2 linked regions of the Homo sapiens genome follow. The protein of the gene in region 2 interacts with the protein of the main gene of each other region in a biochemical or structural test. Each region holds a gene or a part of one and is shown on either strand. Other genes may lie near its edges.

Region 1 (7,650 bases), on a different chromosome or scaffold from region 2:
AACAAAACAAAACAAACACAAGAAAAGCCAGTCTGACAACACTGGTTTATTCAAAAGTCTCCTGGAAGAACCTGGGAGGAAGGAGGTGGGGGTGGGGTGTAAATGGAGTGTGGAGATGTTGGAATGGAAGGAAATACTTTAATTTATCAAAATGGTTTGGGTTAAATATGTGGTAGAGTCGGGCCTAAGCCTTCATCTTGGGCCAGTAGGGTTTCTCAGAAAGGTTTAAGGTTTGGGTTTAAGTGTTGAAGCTCGGGTTAGATTAGATTATTTGATTATTACAAACCCTAAACTTTGGTTTTAGTTAGACTTCATCTGTGCTGCAGACGCTGTAATTTGTTTTGTATTGGAGGAACTCCAATCTTCTCCAGCTTCACTAGGTCTCATTTTTAAATGTCCCATTCTTTTAAGAACTACCTATATATTATTTCCAAACTAATATAACATATGGGGTAGGCATGGGCTTCCAAAGGCTGAGATGTAGATGACACCCCAGGGACACAGGAAGTGCCCAAGAGTGATCTGATCCTTTGAGAAATCACTCTTTTAGAAGAAGAAAAGTTAAAAAACAGTATGGTGCTGTATTCTTATCAATGGGGCATACACAAATGTAAAATCTGTATATTCAAAAATATAAAACAAATCTCAAAGCTAAAATGGAGGCTAGGTAGATATCAGATCCCTAATTTGCCCATTTTATTTGTTAAAGTACAGCTTTGATTTGAATACAAATTGACTTAGGGAGAGCTAAGGACTAGTACAGATTGCATTCCTCTGGTTTATATGTCCCAATAAAGGGTGGAAACTGCTGTTTATTACTATTTGCAGCCTCAAATCTAGTTCATTTATGGTAGTGAAACAGCTAATTGGCAATTTTTTTATGGACTAAATATATTGAAAGCTCAAACATGAGTCAATAGCCATTATTTAAAATATGTGACATAAATATTTTTATTGATCCACGAAGTCATCACTGAATATTTACATCAGAAGCTGTCTTCTGCTAGCACTCATTCACTTTACATGTCCATATGACTCAGTTAAGACACAACCTTAAATTACAATTGTCACGTGGAAATTACAATCCCAGTAGTACTGGATCTTTAAAACTTGGGATCATGATGCTTTCAGTTTACAGTAACCTTTGACTTTCAAATGTCCATATTGTAGCTTCTAAAAACAATGAAGGTAACAATAAAAAATTAAAAATTAAATGTACTCTAAAGGCTTAATATATGTAAATACATTAGCTTAAATATGTTAGCTGTTATAGTAAAATGTTAAACTTGTTATTTCATATTAACCTCTCTTATCCTATGAGCTGAGTCTCATTAACTTGGTTGCTGGCATTTGTCCTACAATAAATTCTAAAATATTTCTGTGTTTGTGGATTGTAGATGTAGCATTCAGAGGATTCATGATGCCCCCTTCCCCACCAGTGGGGTTAAAGATATGGGGGAAGAGGAATTCTGACCCTTCCACAGTTTAAATACGTGTACTGGGACTGTTTAACAGTTAATCTTCCTAGTACATTTAACTTTCATAAGTCGATTTTTTAAAAGATGAGGCTGGCCCGAGGTGTTACTATGTTTAGCTGGGGCCTTATTTTAATATTAAGTTTTTCTTTTTTGGAGTCACATAACACCAGGTGGAAAAGATTTGTTACTAATTCCAGGGAAGAACCATTCACATAGTGTTGGTTAAATGGTCGCCTGCGTTCACACTTCAGTGCCTGTAGACCAGAGCCCTGGAAACAAAAGGGTTACTTGTTTCCCCACCATCGCCTTTACCCGCAGATCGATTTTTCTTATTTAATCAGCGAGTAAAAAGAGAGACACAGGGAAGAAAAAAAAAAAAAACTGCAGGAAGGGCAAAGTGGTGGGGGGAGGGTTGAAAGCCAGAAGCTGCAATACAGAAAATCAGTCTTGGGAGTTGGGCTGCGAAGTCCTTGGAACAAGGAAGGGAAGCCGGCAAAATGCTCGCAGTCAGTTCCACACAGCCAGCCTCCCTTTTCTCTTCGCTACGCGCTAGCGGCTCGTTTGGCTTCTCTCTGCCACCGAGCGATCACATACATTATTTCCCCCAAGATAACACAATCAAACTTGTATTTACCGACATCCTCTCCTCGCAGCCTGTTTGAGATTTGTTTTAATAAATAAGTGTTTTATGTGAATGATGTAGTAATTGAAAGGGGCGCACCATTTTTTTGCCTTCTTACTGCGGGAGGTTCCTCAACCCCAATCTGGTTGGAAAATAAAACGCTTTGTCTCCACAACCACCCCCCACAGCACCCCCACCCGCTCTCAGTGTGTGTTTTATACGTGTGTATATCTCAACCCCCTACAGTAGCCAAGAGAAAGCAGCTAGCCAATGAGAGAGCCCAGTTTCATAAAAGCTGCTCTCTGATTGGCCCGATGCGAAAGGGCACTGGGAACAAAGAAAAGTCCCTTTCAGGTATAGAGGCTGAGAGCTTCTTTTGCTCCACTCCCCCTGTGTGTGTGTTGTGTTTCAGTCCTGATTTAGTGTTGCAGAACAAGCTTGTTGTGTGTGTGCACCAGGGGGATTTTTGTTTTGCTTTTTTTAAATTTTAATTTTTGCTTTTATAAAAAATACACAGGACGGTCTGTGACATTTGATGGTCCATCTTCTTTAATAATAAATTTGTTGAAGAGATTATAATTTCCAAAATAAAGCGGCTGCAACCAAACACATTCAATGCAGTTAGAAGGAAAAGGTCAACTCGATCCAATACAGACCGTAAGTACGGTTGCGTGGTGTGTCTCTATATAGCACTTAGCGGGGACTTCATGCAGGGGAATGTGCGAGTTTTATGCATAGAAATGAGGAACTAGTTACAGGGTTTGGCTTTTGCATTTAGAACAACAACCCAAGAAGGGTGAATTTTATTCAGTGGAGGGTGAAGCATTTGTAACTTCACACAAATTAAGCTTGACTGGGCACTCGGGGTAACTTAGAGGAAATTAGCTTTTGGGCTCTAACCCAAAGGAGAATAAAAGTGACACAGTTGCATATCCTGGTCTGCAGTGTCAATTCTCTAGCTCACCTTACTCCCTCCCTCTTCTGTCCTAGCTGGGCAGACCCCCCTCCCAAAGCGATCCAGGAAAATGGGGGCAAGGGCAGAACAAGCCGATTTCTGTCTCCTGTCAGATCCCAGTGCCCGATAATTTAATATTAAACAAGGGAATAGTCACTCATTACATGTAATGGTTATAATTACCATTCGCCATCTCCTTAAAAAAGCAAGCAACAAAAATACCATTAAGAGAAAAAATAAAAGCCCCACCCAACCCAAACAAACCCACAAATAGTAACAATGGTGTATTTATTACAGGACCAGGCTGGGGAGCAAGCAAAAGGTTTTTCTTTGTTTAATACATGAAGTGGGGGTCCCTAAAATCCAAGTAGCTCGGAGATACCCTTCTCCCTCCCCCAGGCGTCCCCGTCCCTGGCCCCTTGGGAAAGCCGACAAATTGGAGATAAGTTGAGGAAAGGTTTATAAAGTGTTTCTTTAAAACATCTGCTTTGCTCTTGTGCTCATTACATTTCGCTCCTTCCGAACTTCGGAGATCCTAGATCTCCGAGAAATGTTTCACATTCATAACTTGTAGCTTCGCCCACTGCGGGGGGGCGGGGGGAGGAGGTTGGGGGAGTGTGTGCAGGGGGAGGGGAGAGACTTTCAGCTTTTTTTTTTTTAAAGACCAGATCAGTATTTTCTTGATACGCTTGTCACCATTTTTGTTCTCACGACAACCAATTGAGCCCTTGATCCTCACGTGATGTGAAAGGCTTGCACTGTAACAAAATCGCTCCTTTTAGATGGTTGGTTGTTACTAACTCGCCCATCCCCCTCTCCCAGCCCCGACATTTCCAGCAAAGCGACTCTCCACTTCCAATCCATCAACAATTCATTACTGCTTTTAGCTTCCAAACGCCAGCTAATTAAAAATACTAAGCCAAGCTCCGGGGCCATCTGACTAAACACAGGAGGGGCTGGGCGAAGGGAGAGGAGAGAAAAAATAAATAAAAGGGAGACACACCGTTTGCTGCGAGTATAAGAGGGAAAAACTCCCGAAAAGGGTCGCCTTAAAAAAAAAAAAAAAGAAAACAAAAACCTTATTTTGACTCTAATTATCGAATTACCACATGACTGGCTGACCTGAGCGACAGAGGATTCCACTCCCCTCGGGAGCTATACTAGGAACTCAGTTCCTTTTTCTTAAAACAACATAAGACAGGAAAACATCACATCCTTTAGGTTTCGAAGACTGAGCCCATTTTAAACGCCGTTATTTTCCCCACCCCACCGCCCCAAGCCCCCCGCCCCCCGCCCCGAGCGAATGCTGTTATAACTGGTTTATCAGCTCACTGAATCATCTGCTGTCTCCTCCTCCACACCTTTCTTTTTCTCCTCTTGCCCAGTTTCTCATCCCACCCTTTCTTCTCCTCCTCCTCCCTCTACTCCCCCCCTCCTTTTCTCTTAAGTTAGTTCAAGAAATCAAATCTGTCAGGACGGGCGGAAAAATGCCACTTCCCGACTAACAGGCGGAATCCAGCCCAGATTTTCAGTCCTTTCTTCTTATTCTTTCTTCCCTTTCACTAATTTATCCCGATGTTAGCACATTCTGTCTCGTTACTAGCGGACGCCTGTAGGTTTGCTACATGGGATCATTACTGATCACGGTGACTCTGAAGTCTGGAACTGAAGGCGGAATGAGAAGTTGGGAAAACTTTTTTCTCTAAACTCTCTGTTTTTTAAAAAACTATTATTCTCGATGCTTGTTAAGAGGAAAAAAAAACCTTTGGTGCTTCTGTTGTGAATGTGAAACATTATTTTCCAGCTGTACAGTGACACATTTTTTTTAAGGAGAAAAGGACTGATTCGTTTGCCAAAAGGGGGGTGGGGAGGTGGAATAATGTTATCGAGTGATTATTCTGGCTGAGATGTGTTATTTGGTTTCTTCCTTCTTGATCATTTGGTGTTTAAGTAAAATGAGGCACAGGCTTGTTTGCCGAGTGGAGTGGGAAAGGCATTTTGATTTGCTGGCCTAATTAAAAAATGATAAAGGATTAAAAGGTAAGCAATGTCTGTGTGTGTGTATGTGTGTGTGTATGTATATTTATTTATTTTTTTCTTGACAATCAACTGTTAAAAAGGGGCTGATCCCTTTAAAAACCGTTTTAACTGCTCTTTGTCAAACACACTCATTTGCGGTCATTGAGGCCACCTTGGCGCAGATCACTTAAAGTGTATGTCTTAATCAGTTTTCTGTACAGTCAGTAGCACCGTATTTAAGAGAGTGAGCAATTCTCTGACCTAGGAATATGGTAGAATTGTTTAAATGTATTTTTTTCTCAAAAGGCAGGTATTTAACTTTTTATATAACACTGTCTTTTCTAGAGAGAAATGCTCTTAAAAGACATGCATATTTCAAAAAAGAAATTGTAGAAGCTGTTTGGGAAAAGAGGATAGGAGGGAGGTATGTGTGTGTGTTGGGGGCAGTTATTGGTTGTTTTTTCTGTTCCTTACTAGGAACAAAAAACAGATTGCCCAGACAATTTGTAAAAAGAAGTACTGAAACCTAAATTAGAAATAAGGAAAATTTAGCAACATTCTATTCTGAAAACTAGCCTCAGAACTTCCAGGGTCTGGTCTTCTAAATTGCAAGATCTAGGACATGTTTAGGGATGTTTAAAGCTGTGTTCTTCCTTCTTGTCTGAGTGTTCAGGCTGTGTTTCTGGGGTTGAGATATCACATGTGCCAGACTGAAATCCTAAACTTTAAAAAAGAACACAAAAACCTTTCTGGACTTGAATCAGATCCTTAAGATAATTTAATGCTTTTAAAAAGGTGATTATCCTTGTGTTGTTGATAAAGGGATTTTCTTTTTAGCTACCGTAAGATGCTTACTGTCATAGGTTTATTTTTCGGGTTTGGTTATTTTCCTTTAAACCTGATATTGGACTGTGAGGACAATACATGAGCCACCTTACTCTCCATCCTTCCCTGTCCCCTTTACTGATTCCCCAATACTAATCGTTTTTTATTCTGGTAACACCCAGACAAGAAATATTCGACTTTTCCCCCCCCCTTCACAGGAAAAGGTGGACCTGGACTGAGGGTGTAAAATCCCTGGACACATTCGTGGGGCAGGAAAAAGAAGAGGAAGATTAGAAGATTTTTTTTTTCTTTGAGAGAAAGCCCAGCGGAGATAAACGAATGTCCCCTCATCTCCAAAGAAAAGTTCATCGGATTTTTATTCTAGAGAGCTCATCTTCAGGATGTCAGTGAACATTTCTACTGCAGGAAAAGGTGTGGATCCAAATACAGTTGATACTTATGACAGTGGCGATGATTGGGAAATCGGGGTTGGAAATTTAATAATTGATTTGGACGCTGATTTGGAGAAGGACAGACAGAAATTTGAGATGAATAATTCCACCACCACCACTAGTAGCAGCAACTCCAAGGATTGTGGAGGTCCGGCCTCCAGTGGGGCTGGTGCTACCGCAGCCTTAGCTGATGGCCTAAAATTTGCTTCTGTTCAGGCCTCTGCTCCCCAGGGGAATTCACACAAAGAGACCAGCAAATCAAAAGTGAAAAGGAGTAAAACTTCTAAGGATGCTAATAAATCTCTGCCTTCTGCTGCCTTGTATGGGATTCCCGAGATCAGCAGCACTGGCAAGAGGCAGGAAGTCCAAGGGCGCCCTGGAGAGGCAACTGGCATGAATTCAGCGCTGGGTCAAAGTGTGAGCAGCGGCGGCAGCGGCAACCCAAACAGCAATAGTACCAGCACCAGCACCTCTGCCGCCACCGCGGGGGCAGGCTCCTGTGGGAAAAGCAAAGAGGAGAAGCCAGGTAAAAGCCAGAGCAGCCGAGGCGCCAAGCGGGATAAGGATGCGGGGAAATCCAGGAAGGACAAGCACGACCTGCTTCAGGGCCACCAGAATGGCAGTGGCAGCCAGGCCCCTTCCGGGGGGCACCTCTATGGCTTTGGGGCCAAGAGCAATGGAGGTGGCGCGAGCCCCTTCCACTGCGGGGGCACTGGGAGTGGCAGCGTCGCCGCTGCAGGGGAAGTTAGCAAAAGTGCCCCGGATTCAGGGCTCATGGGAAACTCTATGTTGGTAAAGAAGGAAGAGGAGGAGGAGGAGAGCCACAGGCGAATCAAGAAACTGAAAACTGAGAAGGTAGGATAAAGTCGCCTTCCTAGATGTCCTACTCTCCTCTGTGTGCATTTGTGTGGGTGTGTGGGGGTGTGCCTCTGTGTGCCTTACACTTTATGCTTTCTGGTTCTTTGTGAGATTTCTATGATATGCATCCTTTATATTAAAATTTGATATGGGGGAGCCTACTTGGGTGCAGTGTTTGGCTCTTGCTTCTGCTGTCCTTGCTGCTGCTGCTGCTGCTGCTGCTGCTTGTGATGCTAGTGTTTGGGTTCCCAGGTGGGAGGGCCTGAGTGTTCTAAGTACCTTTTGCCCTGTAGATCGGTTCCTCACTAGTCAGCAGGTTGCCGTGTGCTTTTAATAGAAAACCTGCTCATGCACCCTCTTGACTCTTGTCCTGCTTTCTTCCTTAAGGGGAACAGTTTTCTATTTTAATTTATTCATCCTAGTATTGCGGGTAATGTGTCC
Region 2 (6,227 bases):
TGGAGCCTAATGCCCGGCCCGATTTCCCTTCCCTTCCAGGCTTTTATCACCCACTCCCTTCTCAAACTGTAGGTGGTTAAGGATGCCAGGTACTAATCGCCTGGACCTATTAAAACTAGCCCACCCCACCCCCGCTTCATAACCGGCTTTGTTTTTTGTTTTTGAGACGGAGTCTTGCTCTGTCGCCAAGCTGGAGTGCAGCTGGGGGGGATCTTGGCTCACCATAACCTCCACCTCCCGGGTTCAAGCGATTCTCCTGCCTCAACCTCCCAAGTCGCTGGGACGACAGGCGCGCGCCACCATGCCCAGCTAATGTTTTGTTTTTAGTAGAGACAGGGTTTTGCCATGTTGGCCAAGCTGGTCTGGAACTCCTGACCTCGTGATCCGCCCGCCTCGGCCTCCCAAAGTCCTGGGATTACCAGCGTGAGCCGTCGCGCCTGGCCTCATAACCGTTTCTTAAAGTATTCCACGGAAAGGTTTCAGGACTCTGAAGCCCTTGTTCCGGAGGACTCTGGTGGCTCCTAGCAGTGAGACCCGTCTGAATAGATTCCTAGAACTGACCACGTCAGAGGTGGGCCTGTCCCAGGCCTCTAGTGTTTGGTTGGTTGGGGTGTCTTTTGTTTGTTTGTTTTGAGATAGGGCCTTGCTCTGTCACCCAGGCTAGAGTGCAGTGGTGCGATCATGACTCACTGTAGCCTCGACCCCCAAGTGATCCTCCCACCTCAGCCTCCTGAGTAGCTGGGACCACAAGTGCACCACAACCCCCAGCTGATTTTGTCTTAAGATGGGGTTTCTCTATGTTGCCCAAGCTGGTTTCCAACTCCTGGGCTCAAGCAATCCACCCGCGTCTCACAGGCATAAGCCACAGAGCCCAGACCGAGGCCTCCACTGGCGCGCAGCGGTCCTGCCCAGCCTTGGGGCAGGAGGGGGCACCAGCACCCATGGTACCGCCTCCAGCTGAGTCAAGGCTCTGGGCTCTTCAGGGATCCCCTCTCCAATTCTTCCCAGCCCCCACACCCCGTTCCTTAAGAAGGTCTGGTCTCTTCCCGCTTCCCTGCCAGGCCCTGGCTGCAGTTCTCTCTAAGCACCGCTGCACTGAGACCCAGCCTCACCCCCATATCCCGCAAAGAATAGTCACAGCCATGTTCCTGGGGAGTTGTGAGGATGTTTTTGTTTGGTTGGTTTTGGTTGGGATGTTTTTTTAAGAGCGTCATATAGATATTTATATATATAAATTATTAGTGTGGGGAAGGGGCAAGGGGCATACATTGCAGAGGGGGCGCGCACACAGGGATCGGGGAGGGGCAGGGGTGGCACACGATGCTACGCAAAACAGCCACATCTAACAGATGAAATAATCACACCAACGGGGCAGGGGAGGGGCGGCGGCCACAGGGGTTGGGCATGGGGGAGGAGAAAAGCAGGGGGGACAAGGAAGAGAGACCTGGTCCAAGATTCTGTGCGCTTTCTGTCCCCATCCTCGCCACCTCCCCACCTCTGCACACCACATCGGGCCTTGGCCTTCTGTCTGTCCCTCCCTCCCCCACTCTCTGTCCAGCTGCGGAGGCCCTGCAACTGAGCAGCACCCTCTTGGCTCTGGGTGGCAGGCCAAGGGCACGGTGGGGGGAGGGTGGGGGTGCTCCAAGGTCCAATGTAGGAGCCATGGTGCTCTCTTGATCGCAGGTTCTACAGTGGCTTGTCGCTTTCCTTCTTCAGGTGACTAGGGAAGGGGCAGTGCATAGCAGAGAGGTAAGAGACTTGAGACCAACTCTGACCTTGCCCCCTCTTACCGAAGGGGTTGGGAGAGGAGGGGTTCCCTCCCCCAGGAGCACGGTGCCCAGCCGTACCATGCCCACAGCTCCTCCCAGGCTCGCTGAGCCCATGTCCCCTGGGCTGGGGCACCCTAGGGTACCTGTAGTAGTCCTCCTGGGCAGGCAGCGGCACACTGTGCAGCGGGTGATGGGCATGCAGCCACTGCTGCTGTTCCAGCGCCAAGCGCTGCAGCTCAGCTGACTGTGCGTGCATGGCCTGCAGCTGATGAGCTGCTGACATCGGGGCAGAAAGGGAGGCCGGCAGGTCCCGGTAAGGGGCAGCTGTGAGCAGGAAGGGCAAGGGGCATATGACCAACGGATAACAAGTACCTGCTCTGGACCAGGGGATAGCCAGCTCCTTTACATACAAAGGTAATGAACTAAAAAGTGAGGTAACACACCCAGTTCTGTAAGTTGCCAGTGGTAGGGTGGAATTGGGATTCGAACCTCTTAGGCTGACACTAAAACTCGTGCTTCTCTTGGGCAGAGCTCCAGCTCTCCTATTCCCATGCCCAGCTCCTCTAGGCACCTCCTCATCCCTCCCCAAGCCCAACTAGGCCCATCCCCCCACCCAAATACCTCCTTTCTGCCCTTTTCTCATTGGAGCTGCCTACCCCAACTTCCATCCTTACCAAAGAGCTGGTGACGAAGAACTTCGTTCTCGTGCAGAGGGTGAGGAAGCAGGGGGTTAGGGAGAGTTCCAGCTGGGTAGGGGATCCGGGTAAGGTGAGACCCTGAGGCCAGGGGGTCAATGAGAGGGTGCACCGAGGCAGAGGCTGGAGGGCAGAGAAGAGGAAGGTGTCACCAGAAGGCAGGTTTGGGGCAAACCATGCATTTGGGTGAAGGGATCCAAGCCTGGGAACTGAGTCAGACAAACACAAGGAGGTCCAAAGTGGAACAAAGGCAGAGTGGAAGAACTAGAGGCCTGGCAGGGGTGGACAGGCTGAGCCCTACTGGAGGAGGGACATATGGATGACACAGGACAGGAGATTACAGTCATCAGAAGGGTCTGAGGGGAAGGACAGAGAGAGGTAGACTGCGTGAAGAAGGTGGAAGATGATAGAAGTTTAGAAAATAAGACAAGAAGAGGCCGGGCACAGTGGCTCAAGCCTATAATCTCAGCACTTTGGGAGGCTGAGGCAGGCAGCTCACCTGAGGTGAGGAGTTCAAGACCAGCCTGGCCAAGATGGTGAAACCCTGTTTCTACAAAAAATACAAAAAAATTAGCCAGGCAGGGTGGCACACGCCTATAGTCCCAGCTCCTCGGGAGGCTGAGGCAGGAGAATCGCTTGAACCTGGGAGGTGGAAGCTGCAGTGAGCCGAGATCGCGCCACTGCACTCCAGTCTGGGCAAAAGAAAAAAAGGAAGCCGGGTGCGGTGGCTCACGCTTGTAATTCCAGCACTTTGGGAGGCCAAGGCGGGTGGATCACAAGGTCAAGAGATCAAGACTATCCTGGCCAACATGGTGAAACCCCGTGTCTACTAAAAATACAAAAATTAGCTGTACTTGGTGGCACACGCCTGCAGTCCCAGCTACTCGGGCAGGCAGTGCCTGCTGAGGCAGAAGAATCACTTGAACCCCAGAGGCGGAGGTTGCAGTAAGCCGAGATCGCGCCACTGCACTCCAGCTTGGTGACAGGGCGAGACTCCGTCTCAAAAACCAAAAAATGGTGAAAGGATAGTAAGTAAAGCTCATTATCGCCTATGACACCCAAACCCAAAGCTACAGGGCCCTTTCTAGAAAGTTACAGATCTAGAGATGGGGAAAAACATGAAAGACCTCGCAGAGGGAGAAGAGGAGAAAATGGCAAAAAATGAGTTGAATCCAGAGAAATCAGAAGATAGGTTTGTGGGTTGGGCACGGTGGCTCACGCCTGTAATCTCAGGACTTTGGGAGGCCGAGGTGGGTGGATCGCTTTGAGCTCAGGAATTTGAGACCAGCCATGGCCAACATGGCGAAACCCCGTCTCTACCAAAAATACAAAAAGTAGCCAGGTATGGTGACACACGCCTGTAATCCCAGCTACTCCAGAGGCTGAGGTAGGAGGATCACTTGAGACCGGGAAGTCGAGGCTGCAGTGAGCTGTGATTGCGCCACTACACTCCAGCCTGGGTGGCAGAGCCAGACCATGTCTCAAAAAAATAAATAAGAAGACAGGTTTGTGAAGGGCTTGGGAGAATGGGGCTGTGAGAATAGAAAAGTGTCCTTCAAAAGCTCCCGTGTGGGCCTCTGTCATGGGAAGGATACTAGACTATGGAGAGAACTGGGCTGTGGGGCATACAGGCTTTGTGGCCAGGGAAGGCCATGAGAAGACAAGGCTGAGAGAACGTCAGGGAGGCAAAGTTCAGGGCAGCAATCTCAGGAAAGGTTCATGCCAGGCCAGGGGAGGAAAGTCTTGGCCATAGGAATGAAAGAGCCCAGTCATGATAGGGGGAAGGTGGCCCCAAAGGGCCAGGGCAAGGAAGGAGGGGTCTCACCTGCATGGATAGCATCTTGCTGGTGCAGGTGCAGGTGCGAGTGGATGTGGGAGTGCTGGTGGTGATGGGGAGTCACATTGAGCATCTGCAGCCGGGCCAGTGGGTCATTGCCCAGGGCCGCCACCCTTTCTGCGTGCTGCCTCTCAGCTGCCAGCCGCTCAGCATAGGACATGTCAGGCCGCAGGGCTGGCCCAGCTGCCAGCGCTAGACGTTCTCGCTCCAGGGGCCCCAGGCTCGGATGAAAGGGGAAAGGGTGCAGGCCAGGTGGGCCAGGCTGCAGAGCCAGGCCCCCATGTCGGGGAAAGGGATCCAAGCCCGGCCCAGGGACCCCATGTAGGGGTTCCAGCTCACTAGGCTTCACCTCAAAGCCAGGCTTGAGGCGGTCACGGAGGTCTCGTTCACGGGCTTCCCGTTCCCTCTCCCGGGCAGCTGGATCACTGCTGTACAGGGCCGGGACATTGTAACCCAGGAGCCCCGGGTCCACTGCCCCCAGGGGCACGTAGAATGGATGGTTGCGATTGCCAGGAGACATGACATGAGGCCGGGCATATTCACTGAGAGTGCGCAAGGCTGGAGTGTCAGGACCCAGGTAGGGGGGCACTGTAGCCACCGCACTGCCCGGTTCAAATGGAGGGCGATGGGGCACTGGGCCCAGAGATGGGCATTCCACCGGAGCACGGCCCTCCTGAGCCAACTTCTGTGGGATACAGGGAAAAGTGGAGTCAAAGCGGCAGTTATGAAAAGAGGTGGCTGGTTTTAAGCTGCCCATTTGTTTCGACAGCCGAATGCCAAAATGCCTCAACTCATTGAAACTCTGCCCACCTGGAACTTAACTGCGGCCCCCGCTCCCGAATATTTGCCCTTCTTGGGATCCACAGGTAGTCCCATCTGAGCATGCCTTTTCCCAACCCAGGAATGCAGATGGCTCTCGCTGAAAACCTTTTGGGCTCCATTTCCTGGGCTGCAGTGGTACCTCCCCTCCGACAGGTGGCGACGTGACTCGCCCGCCCACCCAGCCACAGCCCCGCAGCGTAGCGTAGCGCAGCGCAGCGCAGAGGGAAGGAAGGAAAGAGGGAAAGAAGGCGGTGGCGCAGGCAGTGACGCACTCACCACGCTGCGTTCAAGCTCGCGCTCCTTCTCGCGCTCGCGCTCTTTCTCGCGTTCCCGCTCGCGCTCGCGCTCCTTTTCTTCGCGCGCGCGCTGCTCGGCCTCGCGCCGCACCTTCTCCACCAGGTCGGCCCGCTTCTTGGCCAGCTTGGAGCCCTCCAGTGGCACGAAGTACAGGTCGCTGCGCGCGCACGAGTTGAAGCCGCGATCCAGGTGTTTGTTGAACCTGCCGGGCGTGGAAGCAGCGGGCGCTCAGGCGGTGCGAGCTGCCCGATGGAGCCCGCAGCGCCGCGGCCCCGGCGAGTGCTTGTAGCCCCCGCCTCAAAACCACCCCTGCAGGCTGTGAGCTGCTGCGGGCCTCACTGGCCACTAGGCCTGGACGGAGGAGAGGGGCGTGCTTTTCTAAAACACTACACCAGCGCAAGGCCCCTCCCTGCTACTCCCTCTCTCGTCGCCGCCTTGTCGTCGTCCCCTTTCCAGGCCCACCTCCGCCCCACCTGGCCGCTCACCTGGCAGACTGACTGGCATGGCTGGGTACATCTACCACCTTGGGAGGGGGCGAGGGGCTGCGGGCTGGGGGCACCGGGCTCTCGGGGGTCTCATACTCCTCAGCCGGCTCCTGTTTGATCTGCGTGGCGCTCAGGGGCGGCCCTGAGGCAGGGGCCGCAGGTGGTGGTGGCAGCGATGGCAGGCCTGAGGGCCCCGCAGGTGGCAGGGGCCCAGGTCCCACGGTGGGCGAGCCCGGCTTGAAGGTCCCTGGGCCTGCAGGTGGCGAGGTTCCTCGATAGCCCGGTGGGGTCCCCGTTCGGAAGGAGGGAGGCGACCCGGGTT

What was found. Proteins that work in one complex are often made in the same cells at the same time.
Region 1: the proteins of ATN1 (region 2) and ZNF608 form a complex in vitro, tested with the Homo sapiens proteins (one study listed by IntAct).

The regions. Positions count from the first base shown.
Region 1 is NC_000005.10:124,743,640-124,751,289, reverse strand, and holds the start of ZNF608 (zinc finger protein 608), read left to right. Parts: upstream 1-4,650; 5' UTR 4,651-5,095; exon of another isoform or gene 5,096-6,117; 5' UTR 6,118-6,300; coding exon 6,301-7,206; intron 7,207-7,650. UniProt on the Homo sapiens protein: Transcription factor, which represses ZNF609 transcription.
Region 2 is NC_000012.12:6,937,240-6,943,466, reverse strand, and holds the end of ATN1 (atrophin-1), read right to left. Parts: coding exon 5,906-6,227; intron 5,623-5,905; coding exon 5,400-5,622; intron 4,987-5,399; coding exon 4,290-4,986; intron 2,588-4,289; coding exon 2,444-2,587; intron 2,094-2,443; coding exon 1,913-2,093; intron 1,721-1,912; coding exon 1,687-1,720; 3' UTR 1,146-1,686; downstream 1-1,145. UniProt on the Homo sapiens protein: Transcriptional corepressor. Recruits NR2E1 to repress transcription. Promotes vascular smooth cell (VSMC) migration and orientation. Corepressor of MTG8 transcriptional repression.